Regions from separate parts of the Homo sapiens genome. Here region 2 is linked to region 1. The links come from fine-mapping of genetic effects on gene expression. Tissue or cell type: whole blood. Region 1 holds a variant in brackets; the other region holds the start of a gene. All regions are shown on one strand. Distances are between the middles of the regions.

Evidence for each region. PIP is the estimated chance that this variant, and not a neighbour inherited with it, causes the effect.
Region 2: it holds the start of PHETA1, and the variant in region 1 is fine-mapped to the expression of PHETA1 in whole blood (TOPMed, PIP above 0.99).

Annotation. Positions count from the first base shown.
Region 1 is chr12:111,320,119-111,330,050 of GRCh38, forward strand. It overlaps CUX2 (cut like homeobox 2), which reads left to right. Exons shown (of 22, transcript NM_015267.4): 17 at 1-657; 18 at 2,303-2,462. LOC105369983 (a long non-coding RNA gene) reads right to left here and starts at 44. Exons shown (of 4, transcript XR_945341.2): 1 at 1-44. The variant C/T (reference allele first, on the strand shown) is at 3,973.
Region 2 is chr12:111,363,295-111,373,226 of GRCh38, forward strand. PHETA1 (PH domain containing endocytic trafficking adaptor 1) reads right to left here and starts at 5,801. Exons shown (of 3, transcript NM_144671.6): 1 at 5,618-5,801; 2 at 2,819-2,963; 3 at 1-169. The coding sequence starts at 133. LINC02356 (long intergenic non-protein coding RNA 2356) reads left to right here and starts at 5,967. Exons shown (of 4, transcript NR_187522.1): 1 at 5,967-6,026; 2 at 8,675-8,776. RefSeq lists a silencer at 5,392-5,971.

The DNA.
Region 1 (9,932 bases):
ATGCAGGCGCAACAGCAGGCGCTGCTGGAGATGGAGGTGGCGCCCAGGGGCCGCTCGGTGCCCCCCTCGCCCCCGGAGCGGCCATCACTGGCCACCGCGAGCCAGAACGGGGCCCCGGCCTTGGTGAAGCAGGAGGAGGGCAGCGGGGGCCCCGCGCAGGCGCCGCTCCCGGTCCTGTCCCCCGCCGCCTTCGTGCAGAGCATCATCCGCAAGGTCAAGTCCGAGATCGGCGACGCCGGCTACTTCGACCACCACTGGGCCTCCGACCGCGGCCTGCTCAGCCGCCCCTACGCCTCCGTGTCGCCCTCGCTGTCCTCCTCCTCCTCCTCTGGCTACTCTGGCCAGCCCAACGGCCGCGCCTGGCCCCGCGGGGACGAGGCCCCTGTGCCCCCCGAGGACGAGGCGGCGGCAGGGGCGGAGGACGAACCCCCCAGGACGGGCGAGCTCAAGGCTGAGGGCGCGACGGCCGAGGCGGGCGCGCGGCTGCCCTACTACCCGGCCTACGTGCCGCGCACCCTGAAGCCCACCGTGCCGCCGCTGACCCCCGAGCAGTACGAGCTGTACATGTACCGTGAGGTAGACACGCTGGAGCTCACCCGCCAGGTCAAGGAGAAGCTGGCCAAGAACGGCATCTGCCAGAGGATCTTCGGGGAGAAGGTGAGTGCAGGGCGGGCCCCCGGTGTCTGGGCTCTGGGAGAAGATGTCGGAGAAGTAGGATGCCCACCCAAGCAGGCTGGCGGGACCCCAGGGGCCCAGGCCCTTCATTCCTGAGTCCTGCTGTCCCTGGGTCCCGCAGGAAGGAGGGCCACTGTTCTGCTCCGTGGTTGTTAAAACCAGGAAATGCTTCCATCCTGGCCAGCAAACAGCCACTTAACTCCCCTCCTCCAGGCCCCTCCAGATCGCCTGAGGTCCAGCCACTAAAGGGTTAAGTGGCAGGACTTGGTGGCTCACGCCTGTAATCCCAGCACTTTGGGAGACGGAGGTGGGAAGATCTCTTGAGCCCAGAAGTTTGAGACCAGCCTGGCCAACGTGGTGAAACCCCGTCTCTACTAAAAAATACAAAAATTAAGCTGGGCACGGTGGCTCACACCTGTAATCCCAGCACTTTGGGAGGCTGAGGCGGGCAGATCATGAGATCAAGAGATCAAGACCATCCTGGCCAACATGGTGAAACCCCATCTCTACTAAAAATATAAAAATTAGCTGGGCTTGGTGTCCTGTGCCGGTATAGTCATGGCTACTTAGGAGACTGAGGCAGGAGCATCACTTGAACCTGGGAGGCAGGGGTTGCAGCGAGCCAAGATCTCGCTACTGTGCTCCAGCCTGGGTGACAGAACGATACTCCATCTCAAAAGAAAAAAAAAAAAGTGTTTGGGATCAGCCTGGGCAATGTAGCAAGACCCCCATCTCTACAAAATAAAAAAAATTAGCCAAGTGTGGTGGTGCACAGCTACTCAGGAGGCTGAGGTGGGAGAATTGCTTGAACCCAGGTGGTCGAGGCTACAGTGAGCCATGATCACACCAGTGCACTCCAGCCTGGGCAACAGAGCAAGACCTCATCCCCCCAAAAATAAATAAAAATTTAAAAAGAAAGGGTTAAATAAAGCTCACCCTAGCCAGGGGACCTCAGTGTTTCCTGATTGGTTGGTGCCCCTGCAATGCCAGTTTTAAGTGTCACCTCTACCTTTAGCAAGGGAATAGGCAAAGGGCCAGGCAAGCTCGGAGGAGGGAGAAATGACTTAAGTGGGAGGTCAGGGAAGGCTTCCTGGAGGAGGGGGGCACTGAAGGATTTTTACATGTAGGGACATTAGGGAGGGTACTGGAGGGGAAGGGCACAGCAACAGCACATGGCAGGCACCTATGAGGAACAAATGAAGGCCGCCTGGACTCCAACAGAGGGGAGGGGAGGGGATGGGAGGCTGGGCATGGTGGCTCACACCTATAATCCCAACACTGTGGGAGGCTGAGTTGGGTGGATCACTTGAGGTCAGGAGTTCGAAACCAGCCTGGCCAATGTGGCAAAACCCCATCTCTACTAAAAATACAAAAATTAGCCAGACGTGCACCAGCCTGGTACAAGTCCCAACTACTAAGGAGGCTGAGGCAGGAGAATCATTTGAACCTGGGAGGCGGAGTTTGCAGTGAGCTGAGATGGTGCCACTGCACTCCATCCTGGGCGACAGACAAAGCGAGACTCTGCCTCAAAAAAAAAAAAAAAAAAAAAAAGGTTGGGGAGGAGAGTGAGGGCCAGGCCCATGTCCCAGGGGCCTGCTGACCTACCCCCCTGGCCCGCCCCTCGCAGGTGCTGGGCCTGTCACAGGGCAGCGTGAGCGACATGCTGTCCCGGCCGAAGCCATGGAGCAAGCTGACGCAGAAGGGGCGGGAGCCCTTCATCCGCATGCAGCTGTGGCTCTCTGACCAGCTCGGCCAGGCAGTGGGCCAGCAGCCTGGTGCCTCCCAGGGTGAGTGCGGGCAGGAGCATCTCAGGGGGTGCTGGCAAACTTCCCACCTGCGCAGTGGCATGTCCGCCTGGCTTTACTGCCCGAGTCTACCTATCTCTCCCTCCCTGCTGCCCTGGCTTTCATCCCAGTCACTGTCATGGCTGCACTGGAACATGGCGGGGGGTCCTGGGGTTTCTCTGCTCCCCTTTCTTCCTTCCTCCAACCAGAGGGAGGCTTCTAGAAGCTGCACGCCTGATGCACTGGGTCCTGGCTTTAAGCCTCCAAGTGGCTCCATGGTGCTCAGAGCAGGTGGAGAATGTGTTTTGCATGTGGAGTCCCACATCTGGAATTGCTCATCGATCTCAGCTCTGTTTCCTGAAGACCTAGCGTGCAGCCTCAGACTCCTTCTTAGCACAGGGCCTTGGGCAGTGCCACCCAGCTGCCCATGATAGCACGAGCAGGCTGGAGTGTCAGCTTTGCCCGGGTGAGGAAACGGAGGCTCAGAGGGATGCCCAAAGTCCCAGAGTCCGGAAGTGCTAGGGGGAGCCCCAGCTCCCTGCCACTGTGGGGACCAGCGGATAAGTCTGCCAGGGCCCTGGTGAGGCACCTACCCGGGCCCTGCACTGGAATGAGGGCACGTGACTGCAAGGAGAGGACATCAGACCTGCCCACTGAGAAGGGCAGAGACCAGGGGAGGCCAGACCCTGAGTCCAAGGATCTGAGCTCAGTCTTGTCAATAGGACAAAACCATATCTCAGGTTCACAGAAACGAGCCAGGTCAGCAGGCCCATATCAACAGGAATATGGACTGGAAACATAATGTCAAGTGACAAAAGCCTCCATCCCAGTGACAGTGCTTACTATAGAAGCTAACACCTACAGGATGAGACTGCACACTGGTGTAGCTGTATGGCTGCAGACTTATGCATTAATATTTAAAAAGAGGCTGAGGACAGGCATGGGGGCTCACGCCTGTAATCCCAGCACTTTGGGAGGCTGAGGCTGGAGGATCTCTTGAAGCCAGGAGTTCAAGATCAGCCTGGGCAATAGAGGGAGACCGTGTCTCTACAAAATATAAAAATAATCAGTTGGAATGGTACGTACCTGTGGTCCCAGCTACTCGGGAGGCTGAGGCAGGAGGATCACTTGAGCTGTGATCATCCCACTGCACTCCGGCTTGGGTGACAGAGTAAGACCTTGTCTCAGAAAAAAGGAGGCCGAGCACAGTGGCTCACGCCTGTAATCCCAATACTTTGGGAGGTGAAGGCAGGAGGATCTCTTGAAGCCTGGAGTTTGAAATCAGCCTTGGCAACATGGCGAAACCTCATCTCTACAAATAAAAAATTAGCCGGGTATGGTAGCATGTGCCTGTAAGGGTGAGGCAGGAGGATCGCTTAAGCCCAGAAGTTCGAGGCTGCAGTGAGCTATGATCATGCCACTGCAGTGCATCTCACACTGCACTGGGCAAGTGAGACCATCTCTAAAAGAATTAATAAAATGAAATGTATAGGCCGGGTGTGATGGCTCACAC[C/T]TGTAATCCCAGCACTTTGGGAGGCCAAGGCGGGCGGATCACAAAGTCAGGAGTTCGAGACCAGTCTGGCCAACATGGTGAAACCCCGTCTCTACTAAAAATACAAAAAATTAGCTGGAAATGGTGGCGTGCACATGTAATCTTAGCTGCTTAGGAGACTGAAGCGGGAGAATCACATGACCTGGGAGGCAGAGGTTGCAGTTGAACTGAGATCCTCACCATTGCGCTCCAGCCTGGGCAACAGTGTGAGACTCTGTCTCAAAAAAAAAAAAAAAAGAAAGAAAGAAATGCATAAGGAGGCAGCCCCCCAGCTGGGGAGGGAGGTTGCACTGGGCAGGGAGGGGGCCAGGAAGAGGCAGGGCGTGGTGACTTTGCTCTGCTCCTTTCCTATTCTTTTTTTTGTTTTGTTTTGTTTTTGTTTTTGTTTTGAGACAGAGTCTTGCTCTGTTGCCCAGGCTGGAGTGCAATGGCATGATCTCGGCTCACTGCAACCTCTGCCTCCCGGGTTCAAGCGATTCTCCTGCCTCAGCCTCCCGAGTAGCTGGGGTTACAGGCGTGCGCCACCATGCCCAGCTAATTTTGTATTGTTAGTAGAGACGGGGTTTCTCCATGTTGGTCAGGCTGGTCTTGAACTCCTGACCTCAGGTGATCCACCCACCTTGGCCTCCCAAGGTGCTGGGATTACAGGCGTGAGCCACAGCACCTGGCCCTTTCCTGTTTCTTTAAAACAAGAAGGAAGATTGGAAGTGACGGGGGTGAAGTGTCAGCATCGATTACGGTGATGGGTGGAAGGGAGGGGAGGACTTACATATTGTTGTCTGTATATTTCTATATGTTTTTAATAGTTTATAAATACAATGATTTAAAAACTCCTCTCCATAAGGCTGTAACGAGGATTAAAAGCAGCCATGCTGGCCGGGTGGGGTGCCTCATGCCTGTAATCCCAGCACTTTGGGAGGCTGAGGCAGGCGGATCACAAGGTCAGGAGATTGAGACCATCCTGGCTAACTCGGTGAAACCCGTCTCTACTAAAATTACAAAAAAAAAAAAAAAATTATCCGGGCGTGGTGGCAGGCGCCTGTAGTCCCAGCTACTCAGGAGGCTGAGGCAGGAGAATGGTGTGAATCCGGGAGGCGGAGCTTGCAATGAGCCGAGATCCTGTCACTGCACTCCAGCCTGGGCGACAGAGCGAGACTCCGTCTCAAAAGAAAAAAAAAAAAGCAGCCATGCTAATGCTAATGACCGCTGCCACTTACCACACATAGCACCAAGTGGTCAAAGTGCTTTGTCCTGTAATCTTCATGTCAGTCTCCACCAAAGGGACTGTTTATCATTTCCATTTCACAGATGAGGAAATCCAGGGGCATGGTAGTGCAGTGACTTGCCCAAGGCCATCATCCAGTGAGTGGCAGACCTAGGATGAGCACCCTGGGCTGTGGGCCATCAGGCTTCCTGCCCCCTAGGGTCCCGAAATGTGTCTACCCCAGAGCCTACCTGGGAAAAGACTTCCATCCTTTTTTGTTTATAGTGTTGTGGTGGGGAGGGGTGGGTTTTGTTTATAGTGTTGTGGTGGGGGAGGGGTGGGTTTTGTTTATAGTGTTGTGGTGGGGGAGGGGTGGGTTTGTTTATAGTGTTGTGTTGGGGGAGGGGTGGGTTTTGTTTATAGTGTTGTGGTGGGGGAGGGGTGGGTTTTGTTTATAGTGTGGTGGGGGAGGGGTGGGTTTTGTTTATAGTGTTGTGTTGGGGGAGGGGTGGGTTTTGTTTATAGTGTTGTGTTGGGGGAGGGGTGGGTTTTGTTTATAGTGTGTTGGGGGAGGGGTGGGTTTTGTTTATAGTGTGTTGGGGGAGGGGTGGGTTTTGTTTATAGTGTTGTGGTGGGGGAGGGGTGGGTTTTGTTTATAGTGTTGGGGTGGGGGAGGGGTGGGTTTTGTTTATAGTGTTGTGGTGGGGGAGGGGTGGGTTTTGTTTATAGTGTTGGGGTGGGGGAGGGGTGGGTTTTGTTTATAGTGTTGGGGTGGGGGAGGGGTGGGTTTGTTTATAGTGTTGTGATGGGGAGGGGTTGGTTTTGTTTATAGTGTTGTGGTGGGGGAGGGGTGGGTTTGTTTATAGTGTTGTGGTGGGGGAGGGGTGGGTTTTGTTTATAGTGTTGTGGTGGGGGAGGGGTGGGTTTTGTTTATAGTGTTGTGTTGGGGGAGGGGTTGGTTTTGTTTATAGTGTTGTGGTGGGGGAGGGGTGGGTTTTGTTTATAGTGTTGTGGTGGGGGAGGGGTGGGTTTTGTTTATAGTGTTGTGGGGGAGGGGTGGGTTTTGTTTATAGTGTTGTGTTGGGGGAGGGGTGGGTTTTGTTTATAGTCTTGTGGTGGGGTAGGGGTTGGTTTTGTTTTATAGTGTTGTGGTGATGGAGGGGGTTGGTTTTTGGTTTTTTGAGACATAGTCTCACTCTGTCACCCAGGCTGGAGTGGTGAGCCACTGCGCCTGGTCTGTGGTGTTAGGTTTTAACTAACTTTTTTACTGTAGTAAAATTCACATAACAGCTGGGCACCGTGGCTCACACCTGTAATCCCAGCACTTTGGGAGGCCGAGGCGGGCCGATCACTTGAGCCCAGGAATTTGAGACCAGCCTGGCCAACATGGAGAAATCCCGTCTCTCCTAAAAGTACAAAAATTAGCCGGGTGTGGTAGCACGCATCTGTAATCCCAGCTACTCGGGAGGCTAAGGCGAGAGGATCGCTTGAACCCAGGAAGCAGAGGTTGCAGTGAGCCGGATGGCACCACTGCACTGCAGCCTGGGTGACAGAGTGAGACTCTGTCTCAAACAAAGAAACAAACAAACAAAAATCACATAACGTAAAATGTACCTTTTAAACCATTTTTGAAGTATACAATTCAGTGGATCTAATACATGCACAATGCGTGTGACCATCACCTCTGTCTAATTCCAGAATATTCCCACCGCCCCAAAAAGGAACCCCATACCCATCCAGCAGTCATTGCCCATCCTCCTTCCCCCCAGCTCCTGGAATTCCGCTTTCTTTCTGTCTGGATTTGCCTCTTCTGAATGTTTCATATAGATGGAATCCTGTACTACTTGGCCTTCTGTGGCTGGCTTCTTTCAGTTAACGTGTTTTCAAGGCTCATACAGGCTGTAGTATGCATCAGAATTTCCTTCCTTTTTTATGGCTAAATGATATTCCATTGTATGGATAGACCCCATTTTGACTATTTTGAATAATGCGCCTATGAAAATTTGTGTACATATTTGTGTTTGAACCCCCATTTTCAGTTCTTCGAACATATATCTAGGAGTACAGTTGGCTAGATCATATGGTAACTCTTGTGTTTAACTTACTGAGGAAGTTCAAAGGGTTTCTGTTTCTCCAGGTCCTTACCAACATGGGTTATCTCCCATTTGTTGACGCTAGCCATCCTGGTGGGTGTGTAAGTGGTATTTCACTGTAGTTTTTATTTGCATTTCCCCAATGTCTGATTGTTTTGGTTGTAGATTTTATTGTCATGGAAGGATTTGACCACAGGTAGGATAGAGGTAAGCAGAGAAGATGGAGAATGGTGCTCCTTGTGGAAGGAATGGCACAGGCAGCGGCTAGGAGGTGGGACCATGCACGGCCTGGGAAGGGATGTGAGTAGAGGTGGCGGGGTCCCCTGCTCTCCCAGAATAGGAAGCCAAGGCTAGGCACAGTGCGTCACACCTGTAGTCCCAGGACTTTGGGAGGCTAAAGCAGGCGGATCACTTGAGGTCAGGAGTTTGAGACCAGCCTGACCAACATGGCAAAACCCCTTCTGTACAAAATTACAAAAATACAAAAATCAGCTGGGCATGGTGGCAGGTGCCTGTAGTCCCAGCTACTCAGGAGGCTGAGGTATGAGGATGCTTGAGCCTAGGAGGTCAAGGCTGCAGTGAACTGGAGTGAGTGCCTTCCAGTCTGGACAATAGAGCGAGACCCTGTCTCAAAAACAATAATAATAATGATGAGGGAATCAGGCCTGGAGGTGGCTACTGTAGCTGCTGGCCCTAGGGAGAGAGTGGTGATGGCAGAGCCACCCTCACAGCCTCTGCTTGTTCATAACCCACTGGGCCTGGAAGCAAAAGGGTGTATCCATTGCCCACAAAGTCCCACAGAGTCTGGCTGTGGGGCTGGGTGTCAGGACCTGTCCAAGCCCCGCTTGTGTATGCCCTGGCCACTGGGGCGGGCAGGGACCGGCACTGGAACCCTGACCATACCTGTTACTGAAGTTGAGCCAGATGCCACGGGAGGGTTATAAAGCACGCCCTTATCCCCACGTCCACTGCCAGGCGCAGCCCCGGGTATAATCGGCGCTACCTACCGTGGCAGCATCAGTATTCCAGACCCTTCCATCCGAGGTTTCTCAGAATTCTCAAGCAGTCAAGGAAGCCCTGTCCTGTCCCCATACACAGTCCCTGTCTTCCCTCTGTCTCTCTCCTGATCTCTGTCTCTCTCCTCCAATTTCTTTTGTGTGTGTGTGTGTGTGTGTGTGTGTGTGTGTGTGTGTGACAGAGTCTCACTCTGTCGCCCAGGCTGGAGTGCAATGGTGTGATCTCGGCTCACTGTAACCTCCGGCTCCTGGGTTCAAGCAATTCTCCTGCCTCAGTCTCCGAAGTAGCTGGGATTACAGGCACCCAACTAATTTTTTGTATTTTTAGAAGAGACAGGTTTTGCCATGTTGGCCAGGCTGGTCTTGAACTCCTGACCTCAGGTGATCCACCCACCTTGGCCTCCCAAAGTGCTGGGATTACAGGCATGAGCTACTGCACCCAGTCACCTCCATTGTCTTCTTTCTGTTTTTCTCACTCTGCATTTTTTTGATTCACCTATCTCTCTCTCTCTCTCTCTCTCTCTCTCTCTCTCCCCCTCTCTCCCTCTCTCCCTCTCCCTCTCCTCCCCCCACCCCACTCTCTCTCTCCCCCTGCCTCTCTCACCATCTCTCTCCCCCTCTGTTTGCTCTGTCTCTTCCTCCCTGACCCTCCCTGTCCCTCCAGTGCTCTCTTTTCATCTCTCTTGCACCATCCTTATCTCTCCAGGAGAGAGAGATTTCCCAGGATCTGGAACTTTCTGTAGTAAAATAAGGAAAGTCGCGGGCAGACTGGGATGGGTTGGTCACTCTGCTCTCTCTCCTGTCCCCAGCTGCCCACAGCCCTGTCTGGCACCCCACCCACAAGCCCAGCAAGGCAAGAAGACCCTGCCTCTCCCTGTCGTCGCCTCCCTCTCCAAATAACCCAGTTGTTCACATGTGACTCCCCCAGCCCTGTAATTAGCACAGTCTTCCTGATAGAGATAATTTCTGAATCTTTCCATCACTTCGTCAGAAGCGATTCTCAGTCAGAGGAGTCAGAAAGGCGGGGTTCTCCCTGGGGGAGTGGGATTGGGGGGTGGCTGTGTTCTTTCCTGCCAATCATCTCCATGTCATCCTGTTCGCTTCGCTTCTTGGCCCTCTAGGTTGGGACATGGGTGCAGATAGTTTTCCAAGAGGGAGATGCCTTCAAAGACCCTCAGTTTTTTGTGTTTTTTGTTTGTTTGTTTGTTTTCGAGGTGGAGTCTTGTTCTTTCACCTAGGCTGGAGTGCAGTGGCGCAATCCCGGCTCACTGCGACCTCTGCCTCCCAGGTTCAACCAATTCTCCTGCCTCAGCCTCCAGAGTAGCTGGGGCTACAGGTGTGTGCAAACACACCTGGCTAATTTTTTGTATTTTTAGTAGAGATGGGGTTTCACCATGTTGGCCAGGCTGGTCTCGAACCCCTGACCTCAGGTGATCCACCCGCGTTGGCCTTCCAAAGTGCAGGGATTACAGGCGTGAGCCACCATGCCCGGCCCAAAGACCGTCAGTTTTCCAGCTGGCCCCAGCCCCTCTCCTGCTGCCGACAGTGGGCAGACACCTAGGACAGACTCTCACTTTCCCAGACTGGCCCTCCCACACCAACATGGCA
Region 2 (9,932 bases), 43 kb after region 1:
TGTTCCCGCGCAGCACGAACCAGCGCCGGTGGTAGGCCGCGTGCCGCCCACCCTTCTTGTACAGGAAGCCTGCATTGTCCACCGGGGCGTCACAGGTGGCGTAGAAGGCCAGGCTGCGCTCGTTCAGCTTCATGGTGGCAATCGCGGGGCCTGGAGGGGAGCCTGGGGCCTGGACCCCATAGAAGGGCTGTTATGCACAAGGCCACTGACGCTAGGTCACCCAGTGCCCCAAGGGGACCTTGCAGCCACTCTACATCCCCGTTTCACAGATGAGGAAACTGACGCTCATAGGGTGGAAGCAGCTGGCCTATGCGCCCACAACTCCTAAGAAGCAGAGACAGGACTGGAACCTGGGTCTCACGGGCCTCCCCAGACAGCCTCATAACCTCCTACCCTCCTGTATCCCTGAAATAATGTTGTGAGTTCCTGCTGCATGCCAGACATTTCAGAGGAATGAACTCACTTTATCTCACAATAGACCTTAGGTCACAGGGACTGGCCTGGCACCAGTGCAACAGATGAGGAAACAGAGGCACAGAGAGGTTAACTGCTTCCCTGGTGTCACAAAGCAGGTTGGGCAGGGCTGAAATCCAAACCCAGGCCTCATTTCAGGCGCTGCTGTTTCCATCATCCCAAGAACAAGACCAGCTGGCCTTCTGCAGTCCCTGCCAGGTCCCAGCCCTGACTTTGTGGTTCGACTTTGGTTTGTTCATCCATGAAATGGATGAGCAGAACCAACTTTGGAGAGTTGTAGAGATTGATTTCATTCATAAAATGTTTATTAAGCATCTACTGGGTGCCAGGCATTGTTCCAGGCCTAGGGATATAGCAATAACAAGATGGACAGGGTCGTCCAGCCTGGCCAACACAGTGAAACCCCTTCTCTACTAAAAATACAAAAAATAAGCCAGGCGTGGTGGCGGGCGCCTGTAATCCCAGCTACTCGGGAGGCTGAGGCAGGAGAATCACCTAAACCCAGGAGGCGGAGGTTGCAGTGAGCCGAGATTATGCCATTGCACTCCAGCCCGGGCAATAATGTGACACTCTGTCTCAAAAAAAAAAAAAAAGATGGACACGGTCCCTGCCCTCGTGGTGTTGAAATGCCACTGGCAAGTGAAAGGGAGCAGACAGTTAACAAACAGATAAGACGTCTGCCAGGTAGTCTCATGTTCTATGGAAAATAGTAAGACAGGGGCTGGGCACAGTGGCTCACGCCTGTAATCCCAGCACTTTGGAAGGCCAAGGCCAATCCTTCTCACCTGAGGTCAGGAGTTCGAGACCAGCCTGGCCAACATGGCAAAACCCCATCTCTACTAAAAAACAGCCAGGTGAGGTGGTGCACGCCCATAATCCCAGCTACTTGGGAGACTGAGGCAGAAGAATCGCTTGAACCCAAGAGGCGGAGGTTGCAGTGAGCCAAGACTGCGCCATTGCAGTCCAGCCTGGGCGACAGAGCAAGACTCCATCTCAAAAAAAAAAAAAAAATAGCCAGGCATGGTGGGGGGTGCCTATAATCCCAGGTACTTGGGAGGCTGAGGCAGGAGAAGTGCTTGAACCCAGGAGACAGAAGTTGCAGTCAGCCGAGATTGCACTACTACACTCCAGCCTGGGGACAGAGCCAGACTCCGTCTCAAAAAAAAAGAAAGAATTTGGGGAAAGATGCAGGCCCAGGGCTAGGCTGACTTACAGGAAGGAGGGGCAGGGGGTCGACCCGTGCCATTTAGCATAGAGGACTCTAACTCCATGCCATCGGCCACAGTGACCCCATCCACCTTCCCCCAAGGAGTATATGATGGGGCAACGCTGGCCAGGAAGGACTTGTCGGGAGGTGGCATCTGCGTCCCTGGCCTGGCCACCTTCCCTTGGGGTTTTCCATGGCCATTTTGAGAGCCTGCCTTATCTCCCACTGCAGAGCCTCAGCCTGCATAGGATGGTAGCTACATTTTTCAAGAAGCAAAGGATATAAAGTCCTGGTACGCAGTAGGCACTCAGTGTTCATTCCCCTGCCTGGGTGGTGTCTTTCTCAGAGCCTGGTGGAATGAGGTCAGGGTGGTGGCTCTCCTGGGAGCAGGTGACCGCAGTGAGGCCCTGCCAGACTACCTGTCCTAGGGTGGAGGGGGTTGTCCTTGCCACCTCCTGTCAGCCACATAGGCAGTCAGGGAAGGCTTCCTAGAAGACGGAACATGAGTTGTGACTTAGAAACTGAGATCAACCAACCCAAATGCCCATCAATGATAGACTGAATAAAGGAAATGTGGTACATACACACCATGGAAAACTATCCAGCCATAAAAAGGAATGAGATCATGTCCTTTGCGGGGAAATAGATGGAGCTGGAAGCCATCATCCTCAGCAAACTAACACAGGAACAGAAAACCAAATACCGCATGTTCTTACTCATAAGTGGGAGTTGAACAATGAGACACATGGACACAGGGAGGGGCAGAACACATATCGGGGCCTGTTGGGGGATCGGGGGTGAGGGGAGGGAACTTAGAGAACGGGTCAATGGTGCAGCAAGCCACCATGGCACACGTATACCTATGTGACAAGCCTGCATGTTCTGCACATGTATCATGGAACTTAAAATAAAAAAAGAAACTGAGGTCAGTTTGTCCTGACCTAGTGGGAGGCCAAGGCCAGAGCCCCCAAAGTCTCCAGGTGTTGAATCCCCACCCTGCCTCTCAGCTACAGCTGTCCCTCTCTAAGCCGCAGGGATTCACGCATTCCCCACACCACCACCCATCAACTCCCATGTGGATGCTGGCCCCGGTTCTCACAGGACCCTCCCGCCCTGCTTGCCCAGTTCCGCTCCTACCTCTCAGGCCACCACTTGCCTCCCTGCCCTCTGCTCAGCTCCAGCCTCAGCTCGCTCTTCTCTGGATTCAAATGTCAGCTCTGCAGCATCTGGGCTGGGGGACCCCAGGCAGGCTATTCATCTCTCTGGGCCTCTGTTTCTGCATCTGTAAAATGGGATCGTAACAGTGCCTAAGTCAGGGCTGTTGTGACAATGATACAGTGACTATATGGACTTTGCGGAGCATGGGGCCAGGCACACAGTGCCTGCTGAGCGCGGTTGCAGTTCACATTTTTCTTGGCTTTTCCCCAAACATCCCTGTGTTGTGCTTCCGATCTCAGCAAATGGCCCTTGGTTTCCCTCTCACCCCCGCATCTGATCGCACATCAAGTCCAGTTGATCCCCCTCTCCAGCGTCTTCCAAATCAGTTGCCTAATCTGTCCACTCCACCTCCCCATTCTAGGCCCCATCACCATTCACTGGGATGGCTGCTGTAGCCTCCTCATAAGTCTCCTTGCCCCTCCCTGTCCATGTTCCTCAAGGTAAGATCCAAGCCTCCTTCCTAAGCTCTTCTCCGAGCCACACTGAAATCCACTTCCCACAGATGGATCCTGTGAAAATTAAGTCCAATCACACTCCTCCTCTGCTCTAAACCCTCCCATGGCTCCCTACTTCTCTCAGCATAAAATTAAATCCTTAGGCAGGGTGCGGTGGCTCACACCTGTAATGCTGGCACTTTGGGAGGCTGAGGGGGTAGGATTGCTTGAGTTAGAGACCAGCCTGGACAACATAGCAAGACCCTATCTCTATAAAAAATAGAAAAAAAAATAGCTGGGCATGGTGATACAAGCCTCTAGTCCTAGCTATCTGGGAGGCTAACATGGAAGGACCCCTTGAACTTGGGGGGTGACATAGTGAGATTCTGTCTCAAAAAAAAAAAAAAAAAAATCCAAGCCTCCCTTGGCTTCCAAGTTCCCTTTCCCTACCTCTTTCCCCCTTGTTCACTCAGCTCCAGCCATCCTGGCCTCCTTTCTGTTCCTCAAATACACCAGACACATCCCCACCTCCAAGACTTGGTCCCGGCTGTCTGCCTGCAGGTCTTCACAAGGCCAGCTCCCCATCCTTTGGTCTCAGCCTAGCTGTCACCTCCTCAGAGAGGTGGTCCCTGGCCACCCTATGCACAAGAGGCCCCCCAGTCCCTCTCCTGTGCCTCCACCTGAAATTAATACCTGGGTCATTTCTGCCTGCAGGGGCGTTTGTGGTCTGAATTCTAGTGCCTGGCATGCAGTAGGTACTCACACAGCTGTTTGATTCATTCTGCAGTATCTTCTGAAACCTTTCAACAGCCCCAAGACAAGGGATCTCACCCCACATTCACAGATGTGGAAATGGACACAGGGAGATTCAATAAGTTGGCTAGAGGCATACAACTGTGCCCAGAATCACATGCTCCAGGCAAGCCACCCAAATAAAGGGGCTGATCTTGGGGTCTCTCCACCCCATCAAGGCCAAAGGAATAGCAACTTCCCTCCTGCTCAGCAACCCTCCTCCCCCGACTGCCTAGATAGAGGCCAAACTGGTTCAAGGTCACCAGCAGGCACAGGACCCAGCTCTGCCCATGACCCCTGCCTCCACCAGAACTGGGAAGACAGGAAGCTGCAGGGGCACAGGCGCCAGCCTTGCCTGGAGCGAAGGCCTGGCCCCTGCCTTATCTCCCCACACTGTTTTCCAAGAAGTTCAGAGTCCACTGTGGGCACTGCTGCTGATTCAACAGCCCATGGCCAGACAGGAAGCTGGAGGGAGCCTGGCCCAGCTCTGCTCCCAAGGCAAAGTTCCTGCCTCCGCAGGTCCAGGCTGGAGGACCTTGGACAAGTCGTTTCACCTTTCCAAGTCTCAGTGTCCTCATCTGTTAAATTGGGCTGTGTGGCGAGGGTTCATGAGCTAAAAGAAGGAAAACCCACTGGCAAACTATGGGAAATGGATTGCAAATATTAGCTGCTGTGAGTCGGAGTTTTTTCTCAGCCTCATCTGCAAAATGGTGACGTTAACTTCCATCCCTCTAAGGGCTGAGTGAATTGACTCCTGAAGAGTCATTTTGCAAAATACTTGGTGGGTAGTGAGCTTTCAGGGAAAGAGCTGTCAAAAAGGCAAATAATTCATCCAAGATCTCCAGGGGCACAGCTGGCCCCGGAACCCAGGTCTCCTGGGAGACTGAAGCATGGCATTTTGGCACTCACATCAACGAAAAGAAGCCAGTACCGCAGGTCCTGGGGTTGAATCCAGCTGCCCTCAGTGTCCCCCAGCAGCGGGCGTGGGGAAGAGGGTGTGGCAGGCACAGGCTGAAAAACATGTGTGCCAAGAACACTAAAGAGCAGCCTGGCCGTCACCGCCCCAGCAGGGACCCCAGAGACACGCCAGCACCGCCGTCCAGACACAGGCAGCCCCCTTGTCCACGGCAGGGGCTGCTGCTCCAGGTGTGGCCCTGCTCCCGGCTGCTCTCTGTCCCTTTGTGTGTTGTGCGTGGGAGCTCTCTTAAGTTCCTTAAAGGACAGCCAGAGCCCCAGATGGGTGATCAGCGGCAGAATGGGGGGCTTATCCGCAGTCCCCACCAGCGGCAGACGTCCCTATGGGCTGAGAGAGGGGAGGGTGGTCATTGGCCAAGTTCGCCTCGGCAGCTGGAGAAGTCACCACTGGTGCGGAGTCCCAGCGGGGAAGATCCCCGCAACGCGCTCTCCAGGTGGCCGGGGGACCCCGAGGCCCAGGGCGGCCCGACCCGGGTCCCATGTCCTCGTGCATGTCCCCCCGCCAGGCCCGCCTTACCTCGCAGCGCAGGCCTAGGGCGGCGACGGGACGGGAGGCGCGAGGTTGCGGGGTGGCCCGGCCATGGTTCGGGACTGGCCCGGTGGCGGCGACGGCGGCGGCAGCGCTTTGTCTCCTGGGCGGCCGGGCCGGCGCAGCCGCGGGAGAGCGCGGATCCGACGGAAGGAGGCGGGAGCAACCGGACAGTCCGCGACCCACGGGCGCGCCCCTTTAACCCTTCCCAGCCTGCTCGCGCCGGGCCCGCCCCCGCGTTCTTCCCACCTCCCGATTGGCAGGCCCCGAACCGGCACGCCCCCGTGAGCCCGCCCTCGAAATCACTCTTAAAGGGTCCGCTCCTGGCTCGCGACTCCCCAGTTCCCTAGCCCAGAAAAGCGGATTGGAGCCCGGGAAGCTCATTGCGATTCCAAAGGTAAGGACTGGCCCAGGTCGTGGATTAGCCTGCAAAAGCATTTGGGGGTCCTGGGCGGGCCATTCGCTGAAGTCCTAGGCTTAAGTCCGAACTCCCCCCAGGACGAGGCAGGAGGATTGCCTGAGCCTAGTAGTTCAAGACCAGCCTGGGCAGCAGAGGGAGACCACCATCTCTACAAATAATAAAAATATTTGCTAAACCTGGGTTGCCAGGTTTAGCAAATTTAATGCCCAGTTAAATTAGAAAAATAGCTCTAATTCCTGAAAAATGTGTGAGTGGCAGAAAAAACAGCTGAATCCAGGACATTTGCGTACAGCACTGTTCCATACGGACAGGGCGCCTCGCAAGCTTCCCCTGGCTCCAGGTGAAGAGAGGAAGTTCTGGAATTAGGCAGACTTGAGTTCGAGTCGCACTAGGCCACTGAACACTGTGTGAGCTTAGAGAAATCATTTCACTTCTCTAAGCCTCCGTTTCCTCATCCGGAAAATAAAGACCATCATGATATGTAAAGTGCACGGCACAACAGAAAGCTCTCAAGAAATAGGAATTGCTGTTGTTTTTGCCCTGCCCACCTCCTTGAACCCTTCCTTCCTGTTCCTGCCGCCTCTTCTCCACCACCCGCCACCTCCCAATCACTATTAAGTCCTGGCCTGAAAGCAGGAAGAACAGGACAGACCAGGGTCAGCTCTCCATTGTACAGCCTCTCACTAAGCGCCTACTGTGTGCCAGGCACTGTACCTGAACCAGGTAAGCAGGTGCAGCCAGGAATCAAGACAACACAAATGAGTTCTGGAAGTGATTCATGCTAGGACTGTACGCTAAGGCAATGGGGCAGAAAGCCTGGGAGTGCAGTTTTTTTGTTTTTGTTTTTTGTTTTTTGTGTTTTTTTGTCACCCAGGTTGGGGTGCAGTGGCACAATCACAGCTCATTGTAACCTGAACTCCTGGGTTCAACCGAGCCTCCCACCTCAGCCTCCCAAGTAGTTGGGACTACAGGTGTGTACCACCACACCCGGCTAATTTTTTTTAATTTTTTGTAGAGATCGGGGGGGTCTTGCTATCTTGCCCAAGCTGGAAGTGCAGCTTTTAGACAAGGTGGTCAGGGAAGGCCTCTCTGAGGACAGACCTGGAGGAATGAGGGAGGGAGCCATGTGGTTATCTGGGAGAAGGAGGTCCCAGGCAGAGGGAACAGCAAGTGCAAAAGCCCTGAAATGGGGCCATCCTGGGCATGTTTGAAGAACAACGAGGAGACCAGTGGAGCCAAGTGAGCAATGGGAAGAATAGTAGGAAAATAGGTCAGCTGGCTGGGCGCAGTGGCTCACGCCTATAATCCCAGCACTTTGGGAGGCCGAGGCAGGTAGATCACTTGAGGTCAGGAGTTCGAGACCAGCCTAGCCAACATGGTGAAACCCGGTCTCTACTAAAAATACAAAAAAAAAAAAAAAAAAAAATTAGCCAGGCATGGTGGTGTACACCTGTAATCCCAGTTACTTGGGAGGCTGAGACAGGAGAATCACTTGAACCCAGGAGGCAGAGGTTGCAATGAGCTGAGATTGCACCACTGCACTCCAGCCTGGGTGACAGAGCAAGACTCTGTCAAACAAAAAAAAAACAAAAACAAAAAAAAAAACACAATAGATCAGAGATTATTGGCAAAGCCAGAAAGCCAGGTGACCTAGGGGCTTAAGGACCAGAGGAAAGATTTTGCTTTTACTCTAAGAAGAATGAGGAGCCATGGGAGGGTTTTGAGCAGAGGAGGGACATGGTCTGTGTTAGATTTAACATGGTCCCTGACTGCTATGGGCAGGGAATGATAGTAGAAGCCAGGCGATCAGGGAGAACACTACTGCAGTAGTCCAAGCAAGTGATGGTGGTGGCTTAGAGTGGAGCAGTGGAGGTGGAGAGAAGTGGTTAAGTATAGATATATATTTAATGGATATATGTATTAGTCCGTTTTCACACTGCTGATAAAGACATACCCGAAACTGAGAACAAAAAGAGGTTTAATTGGACTTACAGTTCCACATGGCTGAGGAGGCCTTGGAATCATGGCGGGAGGTGAAAGACACTTCTTACATGGCAGTGGCAAGAGAAAGTGAGGAAGAAACAAAAGCGGAAACCCCTGATAAACCCTTCAGATCTCGTGAGACTTATTCACTATTATAAGAATAGCGTAGGAAAGACTGGCCCCCATGACTCAATGACCTCCTCTTGGGTCCCACTCACAACACGTGGGAATTCTGGGAGATACAAATCAAGTTCAGATTTTGGTGGGGACACAGCCAAACCATATCATTTTGCCCCGGCCCCTCCAAATCTCACGTCCTCACATTTCAAAACCAATCATGCCTTCCCAACAGTCCCCCAAAGTCTTAGCTAATTTCAGAATTAACCCAAAATTCCACAGTCCAAAGTCTTGTCTGAGACAAGGCAAGTCCCTTCTGCCTATGAGCCTGTAAAATCAAAAGCAAGCTAGTTACTTCCTAGATACAGTGGGGATGCAGGTATTGGGTAAATACAGCCGTTCCAAATGGGGGAAATTGGCCAAAACAAAGGGGTTACAGGGCCCATGCAAGTCTGAAATCCAGTGGGGCAGTCAAATTTTAAAGCTCCAAAATGATCTCCTTTGACTCCGGGTCTCACATCCAGGTCACGCTGATGCAAGAGATGGGTTCCCATGATCTTGGGCAGCTCCACTCCTGTGGCTTTGCAGGGTACAGGCTTCCTCCTGGCTGCTTTCACGGGCTGGTGGTGAGTATCTGTGGCTTTTCCAGGCACACAGTGCAAGCTGTCAGTGGATCTACCATTTCAGAGTCTGGAGGATGGTGGCCCTCTTCTCACAGCTCCACTAGGCAGTACCCCAGTAGGGACTCTGTGTGGGGGCTCTGAACCCCACATTTCCCTTCTGCACCACCCTAGCAGAGGTTCTCCATGAGGGCCCTGCCCCTGCAGCAAACTTTTGCCTGGGCATCCAGGCATTTCCAAACATCTTCTGAAATCTAGGCAGAGGTTCCCAAACCTGAATTCTTGACTTCTGTGCACCCACAGGCTCAACACCACATGGAAGCTGCCAAGGCTTGGGGCTTCCACCCTCTGAAACCACAGCCTGAGCTCTGTGTTGGTGCCTTTCAGCCATGGCTGGAGCAGCTGGGACACAGAACACCAACTCCCTAGGATGCACACAGCACAGGAACCCAGGGCCTGGCCCACAAAACCACTTTTTCCTCCTGGACCTCTGGACCTGTGATGGAAGGGGCTGCCAGGAAGTTCTCTGACATGGCCTGGAGACATTTCCTCCATGGTCTTGGGGATTAACATTAGGCTCCTTGCTACGTAATGCAAATTTCTGCAGCCGGCTTGAATTTCTCCCCAGAAAATGGGCTTTTCTTTCTATTACAATTTACTTCTTATTTTTTTCTTTTCTTTTCTTTTTTTTTTTTTTTTTTTTTTTTTGAGACAGAGTCTTGCTCTGTTGCCCAGGCTGGAGTGCAGTGGTGTGATCTCAGCTCACTGCAACCTCCGCCTCCTGGGTTCAAGCGGTTCTTCTGTCTCAGCCTCCTGAGTAGCTGGCACCAGGTGCACGCCATTGCACATGGCTAATTTTTTGTATTTTTGGTAGAGATAGGGTTTCACCATGTTGGTCAGGCTGGTCTTGAACTCCTGACCTCAGGTAATCTGCCCACCTTGGCTTCCCAAAGTGCTGAGATTACAGGCTTGAGCCACCGCTCCCAGCCTGCAAGTTACCTCTTGAATGCTTTGCTGCTTAGAAATTTCTTCTACCAGATACCCTAAATCATCTCTCTCAAGTTCAAAGTTCCACAGATCTCTAGGGCAGGGGCAAAATGCCGCCAGTCTCTTTGCTAAAACATAACAAGAGTCACCTCTGCTCCAGTTCCCAACAAGTTCC